Homo sapiens: one gene and its partners. The protein of the gene in region 3 purifies or fractionates together with the protein of the main gene of each other region. This does not show direct contact. Each region holds a gene or a part of one and is shown on either strand. Other genes may lie near its edges.

What was found. The genes of interacting proteins can lie anywhere in the genome.
Region 1: the proteins of AP3B2 (region 3) and AP3S1 purify together in Homo sapiens (affinity purification with mass spectrometry; 3 studies listed by BioGRID and IntAct, with this or other methods). This does not show direct contact.
Region 2: the proteins of AP3B2 (region 3) and AP3M1 purify together in Homo sapiens (co-immunoprecipitation; 4 studies listed by BioGRID and IntAct, with this or other methods). This does not show direct contact.

Annotation. Positions count from the first base shown.
Region 1 is NC_000005.10:115,844,935-115,851,962, reverse strand, and holds part of AP3S1 (AP-3 complex subunit sigma-1), read right to left. Parts: intron 1-7,028. UniProt on the Homo sapiens protein: Part of the AP-3 complex, an adaptor-related complex which is not clathrin-associated. The complex is associated with the Golgi region as well as more peripheral structures.
Region 2 is NC_000010.11:74,140,801-74,147,828, forward strand, and holds part of AP3M1 (AP-3 complex subunit mu-1), read right to left. Parts: intron 1-7,028. UniProt on the Homo sapiens protein: Part of the AP-3 complex, an adaptor-related complex which is not clathrin-associated. The complex is associated with the Golgi region as well as more peripheral structures.
Region 3 is NC_000015.10:82,699,849-82,706,876, forward strand, and holds part of AP3B2 (AP-3 complex subunit beta-2), read right to left. Parts: intron 1-7,028.

The sequences.
Region 1 (7,028 bases), on a different chromosome or scaffold from region 3:
ATTGAAGTCCACATTGATTGGTTAAATTATAGTATACTATACAATGTACTATTATATAGTAATTAAAAAAATATTTTCTGGGTATGATACCAAAAGCAAGCACCAGCAACAACAACAACAACAACAACAAAAACGTAAGTTAAATCTCATTAAACAGTTGTGTGTATCAAAGGACACTATCAACAGAGTAAAAAGGCAACCACAGAATCAGAGAAAATATTTGCAAATCATATATACAACAGGAGACTGATATCTAGAATATATTTTTAAAACTCCTACAACTTAACAACAAAAACAAACAACTGAATATTAAAATGGGCAAAAGACTCAAATAGATATTTTTCCAAAGACATACAAATGGTCAATAAACACACAAACAGACCCACAACAGCACTAGTCACTAAAGAAATGCAAATCAAAACCATAATGAGGCACCACTTCATAAACATTAAGATGGCTATTTTCAAAAAACAAAAAATAACGTGGATGTAGAGAAACTAGAACCTTTGTGCATTGCTGGTGGGAATGTAAAATGGTACAGCCACTGTGGAAAATGATGTGCCGCTTCCCCACAAAAAAGCAAAACATAAAATTACCATATAATCTAACAATTCCACTTCTGGGTATGTACCTATAAAAAGTAAAAGCAGGCACTCAAACAGATATCAGTACATCTATGTTCACAGCATTATTCATAATAGCCAAAGGATGGAAGCAACCCAAGTTTCCACTGACAAACGGATAAACAAAATACGGCATCAAGAAAGAAACTTTTATCTGAGGAATGCAAGTCCTTTTAAATGATCTGGCCCAGAAAGGCATTAAAATGTGACAGCAATCACATCCTACTTCTCTCCTTTGAGCTATGAGAAATATTTATCTATTGAAACTGCTTTATACTGCCACAAGTAACTAGAAAATAACCTAATAATGCTGCACCACACACTATAAACTACTCCCTGCATCTCAACAATGTTAGTCAATCATTAACCAAAGTTATTTCTATAAACTAGTGAGAATTCCTGACAGACAACTTAGTATCAGCCCACTCCATGTCCCCTTTATTTAATGCCTTCACAAACCTGCTTGTAACAATGGCCAAAGGGAGCTCATATCCAAGGATACTTGAGTCTGAGTCTCCCAGGCAACTGTTCTCATTTTGGCTCAAGTAAACTCTTTGAATCCTATTTTGTGCTTCAGCCTCTTCCTTTTAGGTCGATGGTATGTACACACATACAATGAAATATTATTCCGCCTTAAAAATTACGGAAATTTTGATACATGCTACATAACATGAGTGAACTTCGAAGACGTGCTAAAAGAAAAGCCAGTTTCCAAAACACAAAAATTCTATGATTCCTCCTATATGAGGTTTTTAGAGCAGTCAAATTCATAGAGACACAAAGTAGAATGGTGTTTGCCAGGTACTAGGAGAAGGGGAGAATAGGAAGTTAGTGTTTAATGTGTAAGAAGTTTCTGTTGGGAAAGACTAAGTTCTACAGATGGATGGGTGGTGATGGTGACACAACAATGTGAATATACTTCATGCCACAAAACTGTACACTTGCAACTGTTAAAATGATAAATTTTGTTATATATTTTTTACTACAATAAAATTTATTTTATAACCCTTTCATGTCACACTAAGATATATTAATGACAGGAAATAGGATATGTATGCGGTAGAATCAACTAGTACTCTTCCTCAGTAAGCACAAGGTAATCAAAACAATTCAGTGGGTCTGGAATATTAAAAGATAGCCCTTTCCTCCTGAGTAACAAAGAGAACTGTGACTGACAGCAAGTGATTCTTGTAATTACACCAGGCTTGCAAGAGTGGAAAAATGTAAATGCTTTTCAGTACAATAGAGGTGGGTCTAGTGGGCTTCACATAAACTCTATTCACATATAATTAAGACAATAAGCTAAGAAAAAAATGGTTTTCTTCTTGAGTTCTGTTACTTCACAGGTGACTTACGAAAGCTTGATCACAGGTCTCATTGATAGAGAGGCTATACAGAACTGGAGCACTCATGTTTTTTGTTTCCTTTGTTTTTGTTTTTTTTTTAGAAGACAGGGGCCCTGCTATGGTTGCCTAGCATAGCCTCAACTCCTGGGCTCAGGCAATCCTCCCACCTTACCCTCCCAAGTAGCTGGGACTATAGGCACACACCATGCCTGGTTTTGATGCACTGACTTTTACCTTCATTCACTGGCCTAGCAACACCTTCTTTACAGAGCCTAACAATAACTGGGTAGAGAAGAAAGTAACCAATCAGAGGAGAGCCTCACTGCCCCTTCTGCAGAGGCACTGTTTAAATGGCAAAATGCAAGTGTGATTCAAAGAGGAGTATCTCCTCTTGTGGAGAACATGCTGGGCATGATGTCATCAAACTGAATTATGTCAAGAAGGGGCATGGTGTGGCATACAGGCATGATCTGTCCCCATCGTTCTCTTTAGCTTTATCTCCTGCCTCTCTTCCCCGTGATTTCTCAGCTTGCCTTCTTGCTATTCCTGAACACATCAAGTGTGGTCCCATTTGAGGGACACTGCACTTCTTTCTGCCTGAAACATTCTTTTCTTTACTGTTTTCATATTCTTCCTCTCTTATCTCATTCAGTTTTCCTCTCAAATGTCAGGTCGTCAAAGAGGTATTCCCAATGACCCTATCTAATATAGGCTTTCCTCCATCAAGCTTTATTCCCTTATACTGTTTCATTTGTCTTCAGACTAATTACAATCTTAAATAATTTACTGCCTATCTCCTATCACCAGAATGTAAACCCACAGGGCAAGGGTGACATCCGTCTTACTTATCACTGTATTACTAGTGCTTAGAATAGGGCCATACAAACAACAAATAAATACTTGAAAGAATATGGACAGGAAAAGAGAAAGAGTGTAATGGAGAGACAGATCAGAAAGTATCCAGAAAGACCACCCCTCTTCCCAGAGGCCTATCTCTAGAAGGCCTAGTCAGAGGCCTAACTCTACAAGGGCTTCCTCCACTTGGAATCTTAAGAAAACAGTTATTAGCTAGAATTGTCCTTTATTCACTTCAATATCCTTCTAAGAGTTGCTTGATTCTTCAGCAAAGAAAGCTGTTTTAACTATATTGTACTTCAAAGGATTTGATGAGAGGAAAGCTGAAAAGGCAGATGGGTGAGGAAAAAATGTGTTTAGTTAGCCTAATGTGACAGTTTTATACAACAAGAAGTTGGAAGGGGACTGGGCCCTCTAGATGGTAACAACTCAGAATCACCTTGAATTATAAAACAGCAGTGACAAAATCCATAATCCACAGGTACAAAAAAGACTAAGTGCTAAAGGTAAGAATGAACTCTTGACTTTCAAACAAAAATTAGCAAAGATTTCCTTTCAGAACGAAAAAGACAAGGACACTGATAACCTCAGGTTACACAGGTAAGTTTAATTTTATACAAAAGAAAGATATATACACATTTCTTAGGACATGCAAATTATTAATGTGCTATTACCATATACTGTCTTTTTTAAATTTTAACAAGAGAGTGGCTGAACATTAACATATTCAGTTATCTTAAAGCCACAATGTTTAATAAATCCATCATCAGCTTCAAAGCATTTATTTGTGTTATTAATGTCTAAAAGGTATATCCTATTCACTGGGACATTCTGAAAAGAAAAATAAAGACCGGGGGGAAATACACTAAGTGTTAATAATTATCTGTGTGTGGTAAAATCAAGAATGACCTTAGTGGCCTTAATATTTAATTTTCCACAGTCACAAAAAAAGAAACTTACTTAAAATTGAAAACAACTTTGCTAAAGAATATAATATAGGTACGTCACGTAAGGCCTTCTTTTAGAAAAGCCATGAAATGACCTATAACATTGTCCTATTTATAACACTTACCTCATAACCAAAAATCATTTTAACTTTGAAGACTTTATTTCCTCCTTTACAATTAAATATTCAAAAGGTTTAGTCTTAATTTTTAAAAAGCAAGTTTTCCAGCATACTCCACATAAAAACTGTGAACGTATAAGCATTTGGGTTTTTCGAGGATACTTTGATATAAGGAAAACCTGAAATTAAGATCTATTGTGACACAGGTTCAGTATTGCATATTACAAGGAACTATTCCTGATATTAACAACCTCAGAAGCAATCTAAAATTTCAGAAAACTAATATATATTAAAAGCTAATAAAGAGGGAATAGTGGTGATAGACATGTTAGTTAGCTTGATTTACCCATTTCACAATATATACATATACAAAAATAACATGTACACGGTAAATATATGTAATTTTTTTTTGTCATCTATACCTCAATAAAAACATATATTTTTTTAAATTTGTTGAGACAGGGTCTCCTCTGTCACCCAGGCTGGAGCGCAATGGCGCAATCTCAGCTCATTGCAGCCTTGATCTCCGGAGCTCAGTGATCCTCTCACCTCAGCCACCTAAGCAGCTAAGACTATAGGTGTGTGCTAACATGACTCACTAATTTTTGTATTTTTGGCATAGAGACAGGGTTTTGCCACGTTGCCCAGGCTTGTCTTGAACTCCTGGGCTCAAACAATCCTCCCATCTAGGCCTCCCAACGTGCTGGGATTACAGGCATGAGCCACTGTACCCGGCCATAAAAATAAATATTTTTTTAAAAGTTTAGAAGAAGAAATAGCAGACCCTTGTTTGCCTACCCACCATCCACTCCTTTCTTTCATCTTTCCAACAGAATATCCATTTTATTCCCGTTTTCACTCTCATCTTCAGCTCCAATCCAAAGTTGGATGTTGATTAGGGTAAGAATATTGGTCTTGGGTGGGTCTAACCAGAATGAAGGGAAAGACACAGTCCAGGACTGCAGAAACAGATGGTTGTCTCTTTCTGAATTGAACTGATTACCAAAGGAGAAAAACAGCCTTTGGATAATAGTAATTTTGTGATGAGTAAAGCAGAGAAAGAGAAAGAAATTGGATCTACAATAAAGTCATTGATTTGCTGAATCAAATACTTTTGGAATCGGTCTACTACTCTGCACTTCCTATAATGTACCTAACATAGTTCTTTCCAAGCACTTGAGTCAGGCTACATAAAACCCAATTTATGCAGACAAACGCATTATAACTAATATGGAAGGAAACCAAATCGTATGGAATTTTCTTCTTAACAAAAAGCTGAAATGCCGTGTGTTAGTATGTGTTAACACCCTCATACTCAGGAGTGTTGATAATTCTATCTTGATCACAGACATAAGTTTAATTATCCCATCTGCCACAACGTCTTAATAGTCACTAAAAAAAGACATGAGTGAACATGGATGGATCTTTTTAAGGGATATTTTTAAAAGAAAAAAGAAGTTATCTATACTTTCAACACTTTGTATTTTTATGTTAAGATTTAAAAAAAAAAAAAAAAACGAGAAAGAAGAATCTTAGAGTTCCTCCTAAGGCTTGCATTTGGTTAACAGTTTAATTAAATACAGTTTATTAAAAAAATTGAGGCAACTCATATAGGTTAATTTGAAATTTTTCCTGCTTGCACTTAATATGTGTGTGGTGTGTACACACACATGCATACATACACACAGTATTTTATATCTGAAGAAACAACTAAGATAATTCACACAAAAGAAAGACATTTCCACTTTATAAAAGTAATTCACAGGCCAGGCATGGTGGCTCAGATCTGTCATCCCAGCACTTTGGGAAGCCAAAGCTGGAGGAGTGTTTGAGGCCAGGAGGTTAAGACCAGCCTGAGCAACATAGTGAGACCTTTTCTCTATAAAAAAAGAAAAATTTTTTAAAAGTAATTCACCAGAGGATACACTATGGAATCACAACCGAAGGGATTTTTTTGTTTGATAGCTATGTAAAAATATATTTAGTTTATAAAATATAAGTCTCATTAGTTATTTACAGTAATGCACAAATACTGTCAGGTAAGTATTAAAAGACTAAAGGTTACTGTTGTCAAGTCGCTGAAGCTAAGTATCAACTTAAAAAGACAAACCAAGCAAAACATTTGAATTTGTGCAGTCATAGACCAAGGATATAGAAGGCAAAAACGAAAAGGGATGCATTTTGAGTCCAGACTTGAATTTTTTTTTTTTTTTTTTTTTTTTTTTTTTTTTTTTTTGAGATGGAGTCTCACTCTGTCACCCAGGCTGGAATGCAGTGGCACGATCTCAGCTCACTGCATTCTCCACCTCCCCAGGTTCAAGCAATTCTCCTATCTCAGCCTCGAGCGAGTAGCTGCACTTATAGGCGTGCGCTACCATGCCTGGCTAATTTTTGTATTTTTAGTAGAGATGGGGTTTCACCATGTTGGCCACACTGGTCTTGAACTCTTGACCTCAGGTGATCCGCCTGCCTTGGCCTCCCAAAGTGCTGAGATTACAGGCATGAGCCATGGCACCCAGCCCACACTTGAATTCGTAATGTCTGACTCTAGCAGAATGAACCAAAACTTCTGTTTAGCAAAACAGGTGCGCAACTTCCTATTTCTCACATATAACAGCTTGGAGCCACAATCGAATCTAACAATCTATTACAGCATGAAATGGAAATGTGCACTGTTAAAGGGCAGAGATGAATATGTAAGTTGTTATATTTGAGGGAGATAAATGAGGAATGAAAATGAAGTGCAGTAGGATAAACTTGTTGGCAAATGGTTAAACATTTTTTAAACTGCTCAGTGTTAAACGATTACTGTTGGACTCAAACCTCAGCATCCTGCCAGTATATGGAATTGTTAGCTCAGTCACACCTCTAGATATTGTTTAATAAATTAAACTCAATATTTTTATTCATATTGGACATATACTTCTTAGAGACCCCTTAAAACAGAAACAGCTGAGTAACACATATGCCATCATTACTTTTATGCTAAAGGCAGAGATTCTTAAAACCTCTAGTTAGTGAAGGACTACATTTTAAGAGATAGAAGGAAACTCAGCAAGTTAACTAATCCCAACTCTATCCCAAGCTAGGAGATTCTAAATAAATGCATTTAGCAAAGAGTTAGAGAGTTTTCTATGT
Region 2 (7,028 bases), on a different chromosome or scaffold from region 3:
TTTCAACAAATGGTACTGGAACAACTGGATTTCCACATACAAAAGAATGAAATTGGATACAAAAAGCAACACAAAATGTATCAAAGACCTAATTGGAAAAGCCAAAATGATAAAACTCTTAGAAAAAATATGCATAGATTTTGACTCTGGATTAGACAATGTTTTTTAAGATACGATACCAAAAGTACAGACAAGAAAAATAAAAAATAGATAACCCAGAGTCCATCAAATTTAAAACTTAGTGCTTCAAAGGACATTATCAAGAAAGCAAAAATTCACAAAATGATAGTAAATATTTGAAACCATATATCTTAAAGGGACCCCTATCCGGAAAATATAAAGAACTTTTACTCAATAATAAGAAGGGCCAGGTGTGGTGACTCACAACTGTAATCCTAGCACTCTGGGAGGCTGAGGAGGGAGGATTGCTTGAGCCCAGGAGTTTGAGACCCCGTCTCTATAAAAAAATTTAAAAACTAGCCAGGCATAGTGGCTCATACCTGTAGTCCCTGCTACTTGGGAGGCTGAGGTGGGAGGATTGCCTGAGTCCAGGAGTTTGAGGCTGCAGTCAACTATGATCCCACCACTGCACCCTAGCCTGGGTGACAGAGGGAGACCTTGCCTCTAAAACATAAAAAATAAATAAATAAACAAGCCAATTAAAAAATGGGCAAAGGATTTGAAAAGACATTTACTCAAAGAATATATACATACAAACGAATCTTACAAATACGATGTTGAATAAATGAAGCCAGATGCAAAAGAATATACACAGTATGATTCCATTTATATGAAGTTGTAGAACAGGCAAAACTAATCTACGTTAAATCAAATGGTTTCCTTTATGGAGAGTGGAGGGCCATGGGGATGATCTCCTAGAGTGCTGGTAATGTTTTATTTCTTTTTTATTTTCCTTTTTTTTTTTTTTTTGAGATGGAGTCTTACACTGTCGCCCAGGCTGGAGTGCAATGGTGTTATCTCGGCTCACTGAAACCTCTGCCTCCCAAGTTCACGAGATTCTCCTGCCTCAGCCTCCCTAGTAGCTGGGATTACAGGCACACACCGCCACACCTGGCTAGTTTTTTTTTTTTTTTGTATTTTTAATAGAGACGAGGTTTCACTATGTTGGCCAGGCTGGTCTTGAACTCCTGACCTCGTGATCCGCCTGCCTCAGCCTCCCAAAGTGCTAGGATTACAGGAGTGAGACACCGCACCTGGCCAATGTTTTATTTCTTGACCTGCATGATGTTTACAAGCTGTGTTCCTTCTATGATAACTCATTAGGCTTTACATTGTGATTTGCATACTTTCTGAGTGTTAGTTATGCTTCCTATAAGAAGTTTATTGTCCCTGCAATATGGGGGACAATGGAAAAATGTCTAATTATCTTACCTTGTTCCTATCTTTTACGTGTATAAGCACCAGTATCAGGTGTTTAGTCTAGTGGCTCAATCATTCCAAGTAATAGTACTATAGTCTAAGAAGAAAGAATTTAAGACCTATGAATACAGTTTCTATGAATGAAGATAAATTCCAAAGAGGAAAGGAAGACTTTCCAGAATTGATTCATTTGATTCTGTTGACAGAAAACAACATCAACCCTTTCTTTTATGAAAGCGGCTGACATTTAAAGAATATGTGGTGATGATCTCCTCTTCCCATTCGACACATGTTCAGTAGTTATCAATAATACTAGTTACTAAGATATGTTTTAGTAATTATTGTATTAATAAAGTATGAATACTGTTAACAGTTTAGGGTTCCTGTTTAATTAGAACCAAAAAATTTCTTTGTTTAAAGCCCTCTGTTTAGCCAAGAAATCAACTTGAGTTATTAGCAATAAACTCTGACACCTCAGGGTTGGAACCTGCCAAATTTTTCTACTTTATCTAGTCAGATGCTTTGCTTAGTAGGCTTGCTTTGTGTCTTATATTTCTGTCTGGGTATTAATATAAGTGCCATTAGAATACTTAGACTTGCTATATAGAACCTGCTGATTTTAACTATAATCTTTAGCTGATAAACTTTTCATTTTCATTTTTTAAATGAAACAGGAATATCCAACCATAAGATCTGCAACTAAATTTTTATTATTACACCTTTTTCTTGGAAGAAAATCAGCATCTGAAATATATAATGTATGACTTCAAGTGGAGCACTGTAATCCACAAGCAGACTCAGATTTGGGCACTTCAGGTGAGTCACATATGGAACACAGCATTCTTTGCAAAAATTAATCTTTTGGCCCCATTCAATGTGGTTATTTTTGGCCAGGCACAGTGGCTCACGCCTGTAATCCCAGCACTTTGGGAGGCCAAGACTGGTGGATTACCTGAGGTCAGGAGTTCAAGGCCATCCTGGCCAGCATGGCAAAACCCTGTCTCTACTAAAAATACAAAAATTAGCCGGGCATGGTGGCGTGCGCCTGTAATCCCAGCTACTTGGGAACAAAGCTTGTTTGTTTGTTTGAGCAGAGTCTCCCACTGTCACCCAGGCTGGAGTGCAGTGGTGTGATCTCTGCTGACTGCAACCTCCGTCTCCCATGGGCAAGCAATTCTCGTGCCTCAGCCTCCTCAGTAGCTGGGATTACAGGTGTGCACCACCATGCCCAGCTAGTTTTTCTGTTTTTAGTAGAAATGGGGTTTCACCATGTTGGCCTCAAGTGATCCGCCTGCCTTCGCCTCCCAAAGTGAAGCTACTGTACTCAGTCCCCATTCAAAGTGTTTTATTCATTAAAGATAATGAATAATAAATGAATTAATACTATCTAAAATGTATTGAGTACTTATTATGGGCCAGACACTATGCTAGACACTTTATCTCATCTTATTTTCACAATGCTACACCATAAATACTACTATTATCCCCATTTTACAGATAAGACAATGTCATCTCAGAAAAGTTAGGTCAATTACCTAAGATCACGCAGTAAGCTAGGATTCAAACCTAAATCCAGCTGAATTCTGAGCTCCTGCTCTTATCTGCCTTGTAGAGACTAATTATTAGGAACACGTTCTAATACAGCACTGTCCAACAGGGCTTTCTGCAATGATGGAAATGTCCTTTATCTGTGCTAATATGGTAGCCACTACACCCATGGCTATTGAGCACTTGAAATGTGGCTAATGTACCCAATACTGAAGTTTTAATTTTTTTGAAATTTTAATTAATTTTTTTTTGAGACGGAGTCTTGCTCTGTCTCCCAGACAGGAGCGCAATGGCGTGATCTCTGCTCACTGCAAGCTCCGCCTCCCAGGTTCACACCATTCTCCTGCCTCAGCCTCCCGAGTAGCTGGGACTACAGGAGCCCGCCACCACGCCTGGCTAATTTTTTGTATTTTTAGTAGAGATGGGGTTTCACCATGTTAGCCAGGATGGTCTCGATCTCCGGACCTCATGATCCACCCGCCTCGGCCTCCCAAAGTGCTGGGATTACAGGCGTGAGCCACCATGCCCGGCTTTTTTATTTTTATTTTTTTTTTGAGATAGGGTCTCGCTCTGTTGCCCAGGCTGGAGTGCAGCTGCGTCATCTTGGCTCACTCCAACGCCCACCTCCAGAGCCCAAGCGATCCTCCCACTTCAGTCTCCTGAGTAGCTGGGCTTACAGGCGTGCATCACCACACACAGCTGAGTTTCAAATTTTTGTTTTGTAGAGACAAAGTCTGCCTATATTGCCCAGGCTGATCCTGGACTCCTGGGCTCAAGTGATCTTCCCACCTTGATCTCCCAAAGTTCTGGGATTACAGGTGTGAGCCACCAAGCCTAGCCTGAAGTTTTAATTTTAATTAATTTAAATTTAAATAACCATATATGGTTAGTAGTTAATATATTGAACAGTGCATGAATGTGCTGCTTTAGCTTATGATTTTTTTTTTTTTTTGAGACGGAGTCTTGCTCTATTGCCCAGGCTGGAGTGCAATGGCACGATTTCCTCTTACCACAACCTCCGCCTGCTGGGTTCAAGCGATTCTCCTGCCTCAGCCTCCCGAGTAGCTAGGATTACAGGCATGCGCCACCATGCCCAGCTAATTTTTTGTATTTTTAGTAGAGATGGGGTTTCACCATGTTGGCCAGGCTGGTCTCGAACTCCTGACCTCGTGATCCGCCCGCCTCAGCCTCCCAAAGTGCTGAGATTACAGGCATGAGCCACTGCACCCAGCCTAGCTTATGATTTAAGAGGAGGAGGTAAAAGACATTTCTTGTTTAGTTAGGAGGCAAAAGACATTCTAGTTGTTATGCTGAGGAAGTTTAATAAATTATTTAGAGTGGAAGTTATATTTAAAAGCACCGACACAGGTTATCTAAAATCATTCATCCTATCGAAAATATAGTTCACAAGGATTTATAGTGCTCCTTTGCCACAATACACTCTGAAAGAGTTGCTTGTTTTGAAAGTAAGTGATTTTGTAGTTACTTTATTTTAGGGCCAGATCTCTACTCATCCTCTTAAGCTGGTGAAAAATTCTTTCCAGGAAAGTTTCCACCGAAGTTGTTTTTATTGGCAGTAGTTCAGGTCTCAGAATACAGAAAGTTAAACCAGCCTCCTAGATTTATTGTTGTTATCCTTAGTGCTGAGATGAAAGCATAACACTTGTAAGTTCTCGACTGTGCTTAGCTTTAAAACCCATCTTAACCTTCTATAATAGGAAAAGAGAGCTTACTTCTTCTATCCATATTATGACCAAGGTCTAATGCATATAACAATTAAATAATACCATGTTGCAGTGTAAATTAGCCTGTTTCTTTATTTATCGTCCTTTTGGTAGCTGCAGTTATTTTTTTAATTATTATTTTCATAAACTTTCTGAGAAAACTACACACTCATTATTACCACAACCATCTTTTTGTTCCTAGTGGCTTTTGAGTCATAAAACAGAATTCTCCCAGCTTATTTAAAAGCCACTAGAAGAAACTGTGTTCAGAGGCAGACCCACCAGAGCTTTGACTGCAGCTTAAATACATCATAAATCCTTTTTACTAAACATTTTATAATCATCCTGGGTAATTCACAAGCAATGCATTTACAATAGTCAAAATATTCTTGGAAGACAGTGTCTAAAAACAAAAATGTATTCCTTCTATATATAATATGATGGAGGCACAGAAGGGCCTATACTGAACTTGAGAGAATGAGACCAGAAAAGCATCTACTCTTCTGATTCTCAGCCAATATCTTGACCACATATTCATTCAACACAGAGTTTTGAGGCACTGGGTATATAAGAACAAACAAAATTAGAGTTCCTATACTCACAGCATTTAGAGATGAGCAGAGAAGACAACTTAATACAGTTAAGATGTAATTCCTACGATGATACAGGAAATATAGTGTGCTGTGGGAATCTACAAGGCTTAGAGGTGAGAGAGAACACAAGACAAATAAATCCAGTATAAATTTAGCAAATATGGAAGGTGGAGGGAAGAGGGGAGATGAAACTGGACAAGGAGGTAAGCAGAGACTGATTGGTTCATGGAGCATGCTAAACTTGTTAAGGAGTTTGGACTTTATTCTTAGTGCAATGTAAAGTCATTTTATAATTTTTTTAATTAATCATGCAATCCGATTTACATTTTTAGAAAGATCATACTAATTACACTGCGGAAACTGGATAATCGGTAACTGAACACTGTGACACCAGTTGGGAGATGAGTGGTGATGGCCTGGTCTAGAGTCTTGACTATGAGGATGGGGTACAGTGAAAAGATAAGAGAAACATTTAGGTTTTGTGCTAAAAAACATTTAGGCTTGGAGGAGGGGGTGTGTGGAGATGAGAGAGATGTGTCACTTGGCCTGGTCCTGTGTAATTTGACCAATTCTGGATACATCTGACCCAAATAAATATATTCAAAAAACTATTATATATACCCTTCTGGTGCTTTAGAGAAGCCAGATTGGAATCAGAATTGTAAGTAATCAGGATTTTTTGTTAATGGGAATTAATCAAAAGGAGAATTGAAACAAAAGAAAGAATGTGCATAGTATGAAGAGAGCTTATGGCAGGAACTCCAACATTTGAGTAGGAGGTGGGTCAAGGAAGTGGACCTAAAGAATGACCAAGATGTGACTGAAGAGTCCTAAGAAAAAAAAAAAAACAGGGTGGTTTTTAGTAACTATAGCTTATTAGTGTATTTCCAGAAGAATGGAGTGGTAAATACTGTTACATGGCACAAAGAGGTTAAGCTACGAGAATTGAAAATGTCAGCTGGGCGTGGTGCTCACACCTATAATCCCAGCACTTTGGGAGGCCAAAGTGGGAGTATCACCTGAGCTCGGGAGTTCGAGACCAGCCTGGCCAACATGGTGAAATCCCATCTCCACTAAAAATACCAACAAATTAGCTGGGTGTGGTGGTGGGTGCCTGTAATCCCGGCTGCTCTGGAGGCTGAGGCAGGAGAATCGCTTGAACCCGGGAGGTGGAGGCTGCAGTGAGCCGAGATGGCGCCACTGCACTCTAGCCTGGATGACAGAGCGAGACTCCATCTCAACAACAACAAAAAAGAATTGAAAATGTCTGTTGATTTAAGAGTGTTTTTTAAACTTTCTTTTCCTTAATGCCTGCTAAGGAGCCCTTTTAGACTCCATCTTCTCACCACCCTGCCAATCAAATTCCTCACCCATAAAACTTTTTATTATTCTTTCTTTTTCAACTGTAAATTGACAAATTATAGTTGTATATATTTAGGGGTACCAGATGTTATGATTTATGAAATGTGGAATAATTAAATGAAGCTAATTAATATCACCATAAAATTTTAATACCACAGAATATTCTCTGTTTATGTATTGTATTTGTGCTTTACACATAAAAAGAGTATTATATTTTTTTCACCTCACAAGAAGCAGTTTTTATCTGCTTTGAGAATGCATGATTTAACACACAGAGGACACTGGTGATCTTGGTAAAGGTAGTTTTGGTGGGCTGGGTGCGGTGGCTCACACCTGTAATCCCAGCACTTTGGGAGGCTGAGGCGGGCAGATCACGAGGTCAGGAGTTCGAGACCAGCCTGGCCAACATGGCGAAACCCTG
Region 3 (7,028 bases):
CCCCGGGAGCTGCAGGAATCGCTGCATCAGGTTCTTCTCCAGGAATGGACTGAGCTGGCCAGGGCGCTGGGGCTCCTGTCACAGTCACCAGATGGCCCGCCCCCAAAACTTGGTAACCGGACACTGGCAGGGAGGGATGCTCCGGTTTCCTCTTCACTGCTCAGAGACAAGGCCTCTAGAGGGAAAGAAGGGCAGGGACAGGAGACCAAGCCTACCCCTAGTCTCTGGGCAAGGGACTAGATGGTCAGTGGAGTTGATAGAGAGGTGAGAGATGCCCTCTTCAGCTCCAATCCCACTGCCACAATTAGACTGCAGCCTCCTGAGAAATCTCATATACCCTCTTCTCACTGACCCTAGGCATCTTAATCCTCACCTGCCTTTCCAGAGCCAATACTTGATTTATTCCTTCCCATCAACCTTCTCTTATCTCTACTTCCTCCTAGCACCCTCCCCCGCAACCCCTGTGTCTATCCCTCCAACTGCTCTCACATCCTTGGCCCTCTTGTCCCACTGGTCTCCAATGCCACTGGCCTGCCAGTGGTGGGTGGCTTTTTTTTTTTTTTTTTTCAGATGGAGTTTCACTCTTATTGCCCAGGCTGGAGTGTAATGGCGTGATCTCGGCTCACTGCAACCTCCGTCTCCTGGGTTCAAGCAATTCTCCTGCCTCAGCCTCCCAAGTAGCTGGGATTACAGGCATACACCACCACACCTGGCTAATTTTTGTATTTTTAGTAGAGACGGGGTTTCTCCATGTTGGTCAGGCTGGTCTCAAACTCCCAACCTTAGGTGATATGCCTGCCTCAGCCTCCCAAAGTGCTAGGATTACAGGCGTGAGCCACCGCGCCTGGCCTGGTTGGCTTTCTTCATTGTATTTGAAACCCCTTTGACCCTCAAGTCCCCATTCCCAGCCTTGCCCTTATGGCTTCACCACCTGGTTCCCGAAAAAGGGAAAGTCTTTAGATGAAATCCCCTGCAGCCCCCTGCCCCAGACTCCCATCCATCTGCATTTATTTACTTATTTATTTATTTAGAGATGGAGTCTCACTCCGTTGCCCAGGCTGGAGTGCAGTGGTGCCATCTCGGCTCACTGTAATCTCCACCTCCCGGGTTCATGTGATTCTCCTGCCTCAGCCTCCTGAGTAGCTGGGATTATAGACATGCGTTACCACAACTGGCTAATTTTTGTATTTTTAGTAGAGACGGGGTTTTGACATGTTGGCCAGGTTAGTCTTGAACTCTTGATTTCAAGTGACCTGCCCGCCTCAGCCTCCCAAAGTGCTGGGATTACAGGCATGAGCCACTGTACCCAGTCTCCATCTGCATTTATACTCTCCTCTCCTCCTGCCCTCTTCCCTCTGGGCAGAGTTGGTCCTCCCTGCTCCCAGGCTAGTCCTCCCACCCAGCTCAGTAAGCCTCCCCTCCCATCACTCAGTGTTCTGTACTTCCTTTCTTCCCTTCAGCCTCTCTCCCACCAATCGCTCCTTCCCATCAGCAGTTAAACTTGCTCTAGGCTCTCCCGCCTAATATTAATAATAAACAAAAATATGGAGTCATACATTTTAAGAAACAAAAAAAAAAACCCAAAATAACAAAATAGACAAACTTCCTTGAACTGAGTGAGGTTCTCCTCCAGCAGCTTTCTCTTTTACAGTCAAATTTCTTGAAAGCAAAATTTCCATTCACTGTTTTATCTACTTACCACCTGTGTGCTCCTTTATTCATTTTAATCTGGCTTTAGATGTCGACTTAGAATGTGGGGTTGAAGGGTCATGATCTCTGCAACTTAACATGGTTCAACCAAAAAAAGTATACGAATAGATGGTTAGATAAAGCAAATAAGGTACGATGTCAATGACAGTTGAATCTAGATGGATGATATACATGTGTTCATTGTATTATTCATTTCATTTTTCTGTATGTTTTAAATCATCCACAACAGAATGCTGGGAAAGAAATAATCTAGCTCCTGTTCTCCTTACTTTGCCAGAATTTATCTCCCAGGGCAGGAGGTGGGGAATAGAGTAGAAAGGAATTGAGCTCTTCTTTGTCAACCAATGGTCATGATTTTTTTCCTTGTTTGATTTGACCTTAATGGGCATTGAAACTACTGACCACTCCCTCCTTCTTGAAATTACATTGTTTTCTTTCAGCCTTTAGTTCACCTCTTGGGTACCTTGAAACACTTTCCACTGTTCTCTGGTCACTTCTAATGTTGGTGTCTTCAGGGTTCAGACTTGTGCAGTGTCTGAACTCATTTTATACCTCCTCCCTGAGTTATCTTCACTTCTGTGGCTTTAATTAACATACATATGTTAATAATTCCCTAATCTCTCTCCTGGAACCCAAATCGTAATATCCAGCTACCTAATAGGGTAATATGTCCCTCAGAGTTTACAATCTCAATATGTCCAAAGCTGGGCTCAACATTAATTTTCCACAAATTTGCTTGTAACATCTTTATTTCCAATTACACTGAATAACACCATCATCCATCCAGTTGCAGGAACTAGTAACCTGAGTAACATCCTTGTCAGGCCTCTGAGCCCAAGCTAAACCATCATATCCCCTGTGACCTGCACGTATATATCCAGATGGCCTGAAGTAATTGAAGAATCACAAAAGAAGTGAAAATGGCCTGTTCCTGCCTTAACTGATGACATTACCTTGTGAAATTCCTTCTCCTGGCTCATCCTGGCTCAAAAGCTCCCCCACTGAGCACCTTGTGTCCCCCGCCCCTGCCCACCAAGGAACACCCCCCTTTGACTGTAATTGTCCACTACCTACCCAAATCCTATAAAATGGCCCCACCCCTATCTCCTTTCGTTGACTCTTTTTTCAGACTCAGCCGGCCTGCAACCAGGTGATTAAAAAGCTTTATTGCTCACACAAAGCCTGTTGGGTGGTCTCTTCACATGGACGTGCGTGAAATTTGGTGCCATGACTCGGATCGGGGGACCACCCTTGGAAGATCAATCCCCTGTCCTCCTGCTCTTTGCTTCATGATAAAGATCCACCTAATGACCTCGGGTCCTCAGACCAACCAGCCTGAGGAACATCTCACCAATTTTAAATCAGGTAAGCGGCCTCTTTTTACTCTCTTCTCCAACCTCTCTCACTATCCCTCAACCTCTTTCTCCTTTCAATCTTGGTGCCATCTTTCAATCTCTCCCTTCTCTTAATTTCGGTTCCTTTCCTTTTCTGGTAGAGACAGGAAATGCATTTTATCTGTGAACCCAAAACTCCGGCGCCGATCACGGACTCAGGAAGACAGTCTTCCCTTGGTGTTTAATCACTGCGGGGACGCCTGCTTGATTATTCACCCACGTTTCAGAGTTGTCTGATCACCGCGAGGATGCCTGCCTTGATCTTTCACCCTTAGTGGCAAACACCACTTTTTGGGGGGCAAGTACCCCCCACCCCTTCTCTCCATGTTTCTACCCTCTCTTTTCTCTCCACGTTCCTGGGGGACAAGCACCCCCGACTCCTTCTCTCTGTGTCTCTACCCTCTCTTTTCTCTCCACTTTCCTGGGGGGCAAAGCACCCCCCACCCCTTCTCTCCGTGTCTCTACCCTCTCTTTTCTCTGGGCTTGCCTCCTTCACTGTGGGCAACATTCCACCCTCCATTCCTCCTTCTTCTCTCTTAGCCTGTGTTCTCAAGAACTTAAAACCTCTTCAACTCACACCTGACCTAAAACCTAAATGCCTTATTTTCTTTGCAATGCCGCTTAACCCCAATACAAACTCAACAATGGTTCCAAATAGCCAGAAAACGGCACTTTCGATTTTTCCATCCTACAAGATCTAGATAATTCTTGTTGTAAAATGGGCAAACAGTCTGAGGTGCCTGATGTCCAGGCATTCTTTTACACATCGGTCCCTCCCTAGTCTCTGTTCCCAATGCGACTCATCCCAAATCCTCCTTCTTTCCCTCCCGCCTGTCCCCTCAGTCCCAACCCCAAGCGTCGCTGCGTCTTTTCAATCTTCCAATCTTCCTTTTCTACCGACCCATCTGACCTCTCACCTAATCCCCAGAATGCTCCTCAGGTCACTCCCCACCAGGCTGAATCAGACTCCAATTCTTTCTCAGCTTCTGCTCCTCCACCCTATAATCCTTCTATCACCTCCTCTCCCCACACCCAGTCCGGCTTACAGTTTTGTTCTGCGACTAGCCCTCCCCAACCTGCCCAACAATTTCCTCTTAAAGAGGTGGCTGGAGCTAAAGGCATAGTCAAGGTTAACGCTCCTTTTCCTTTATCCGACCTCTGCCAAATCAGTTAGTATTTAGGCTCTTTTTCATCAAATATAAAAACCCAGCCCAGTTCATGGCTCGTTGGGCAGCAACCCTGAGACGCTTTACAGCCCTAGACCCTAAAAGGTCAAAAGGCAGTCTTATTCTCAATATACATTTTATTACCCAATCCACTCCCAACATTAAATAAAACTCCAAAAATTAAATTCCGGCCCTCAAACCCCATAACAGGACTTAATTAACCTCGCCTTCAAGGTGTACAATAATAGAGTAAAGGCAGCCAAGTAGCAATGTATTTCTGAGTTGTAGTTCCTTGCCTCCACTGTGAGAGAAACCCCAGCCACATCTCCAGTACACAAGAACTTCAAAATGCCTAAGCTGCAGCAGTCAAGCATTCCTACAGGACCTTCTCCATCAGGATCTTGCTTCAAGTGCCAGAAATCTGGCCACTGGGCCAAGGAATGCCCACAGCCCAGGATTCTTCCTAAGCCTTGTCCCATCTGTGTGGAACCCCACTGGAAATCGGACTGTCCAACTCACCTGGCAGCCACTCCCAGAGCCCCTGGAACTCTGGCCCAAGGCTGCCTGACTGACTCCTTCCCAAATCTTCTCGGCTTAGCAGCTGAAGACTGACACTGCCCAATCGCCTTGGAAGCTTCCTGGACCATCACAGATGCTTTGGGTAACTCTTACAGTGGAGGGTAAGTCCGTCCCCTTCTTAATCAATACGGAGGCTACCAACTCCACATTACCTTCTTTTCAAAGGCCTGTTTCCTTTGCCTCCATAACTGTTGTGGGTATTGATGGCCAGGCTTCTAAACCTCTCAAAACTCCCCAACTCTGAGGCCAACTTGGACAATACTCTTTTATGCACTCCTTTTCAGTTATCCCCACCTGCGCAGTTCCCTTATTAGGCCGAGACACTTTAAATTATCTGCTTCCCTGACTATTCCTAGGCTACAGCCACACCTCATTGCCACCTTTTCCCCCAGTTCAAAGCCTCCTTCACATCCTCCCCTTGTATCTCCCCACCTTAATCCTCAAGTATAGGACACCTCTATTCCCTCCTTGGCGACTGATCATGCACCCCTTACCATCCCATTAAAACCTAATCACCCTTACCGTGCTCAATGTCAATATCCCATCCCCCAGCAGGCTTTAAAAGGATTAAAGCCTGTTATCACTCGCCTGTTACAGCATGGCCTTTTAAAGCCTATAAACTCTCCTTACAATTCCCCCATTTTACCTGTTCAAAAACCAGACAAGTCTTACAATTAGTTCAGGATCTGTGCCTTGTCAGCCAAATTGTTTTGCCTATCCACCCCGTGGTGCCAAACTCATATACTCTCCTCCTCAATACCTCCCTCCACAACCCCTCCACAACCCATCATTCTCTTCTGGATTTCAAACATGCTTTCTTTACTATTCATTTGCACCCTTCATCTCAGCCTCTCTTCGCTTTCACTTGGACTGTCCCTGACACCCATCAGGCTCAGCAAACTACCTAGGCTGTACTGCCGCAAGGCTTCACGGACAGCCCCCATTACTTCAGTCAAGCCCAAATTTCTTCCTCATCCATTACCTATCTTGGCATAGTTCTCATGAAAACACACGTGCTCTCCCTGCTGATCATGTCCGGCTAATCTCCCGAACCCCAATCCCTTCTACAAAGCAACAACTCCTTTCCTTTCAAGGGATGGTTAGGTACTTCCACCTTTGGATACCTAGTTTTACCATCCTGACTAAACCATTATATAAACTCACAAAAGCAAACCTAGCTGACCCCACAGATCCTAAATCCTTTTGCCACTCCTTTCCATTCCTTAAAAACAGCCGTAGAAGCTGCTCTCACACTAGGTCTCCCTAATTCATCCCAACCCTTTTTCATCACACACAGCCAAAGTGCAGGGCTGTGCGGTTGGAATTCTTACACAAGAGCTGGGACCACGCCCTGTAGCCTTTCTGTCCGAACAACTTGACCTTACTGTTTTGGCCTAGCCCTCATGTCTGCGTGCAGCGGCTGCCGCTGCTTTAATACTTTCAGAGGCCCTCAAAATCACAAACTATGCTCAACTCACTCTCTACAGTTCTCATAACTTCCAAAATCTATTTTCTTCCTCACACCTGACGCATATACTTTCTGCCCCCCTCCACTACCTCTCAGAAAGCTTAACTCATTGCCTTAACTCGAGCCCTCAGTCTTGCAAAAGGACTATGTGTCAATATTTATACTGACTCTAAATATGCCTTCCATATCCTGTACCTCCATGCTGTTATATGGGCAAAAAGCTTTCCTCATTACACAAGGGTCCTCCATCATTAATTCCTCTTTAATAAAAACTCTTCTCAAGGCCGCTTTACTTCCAAAGGAAGCTGGAGTCATTCACTGCAAGGGCCATCAAAAGGCATCAGATCCCATCGCTCAGGGCAACACTTATGCTGATAAGGTAGCTAAAAAAGCAGCTAGCATTCCAACTTCTGTCCCTCATGGCCAGTTTTTCTCCTTCTCATCAGTCACTCCTACCTACTCCCCCAATGAAACTTACACCTATGAATCTCTTCCCACACAAGGCAAATGGTTCTCAGACCAAGGAAAATATCTCCTTCTAGCCTCACAGGCCCATTCTATTCTTTCGTCATTTCATAACCTCTTCCATGTAGGTTACAAGCCGCTAGCCTGCCTCTTAGAACCTCTCATTTCCTTTCCATTGTGGAAATCTATCCTCAAGGAAATCACTTCTCAGTGTTCCATCTGCTATTCTACTACTCCTCAGGGATT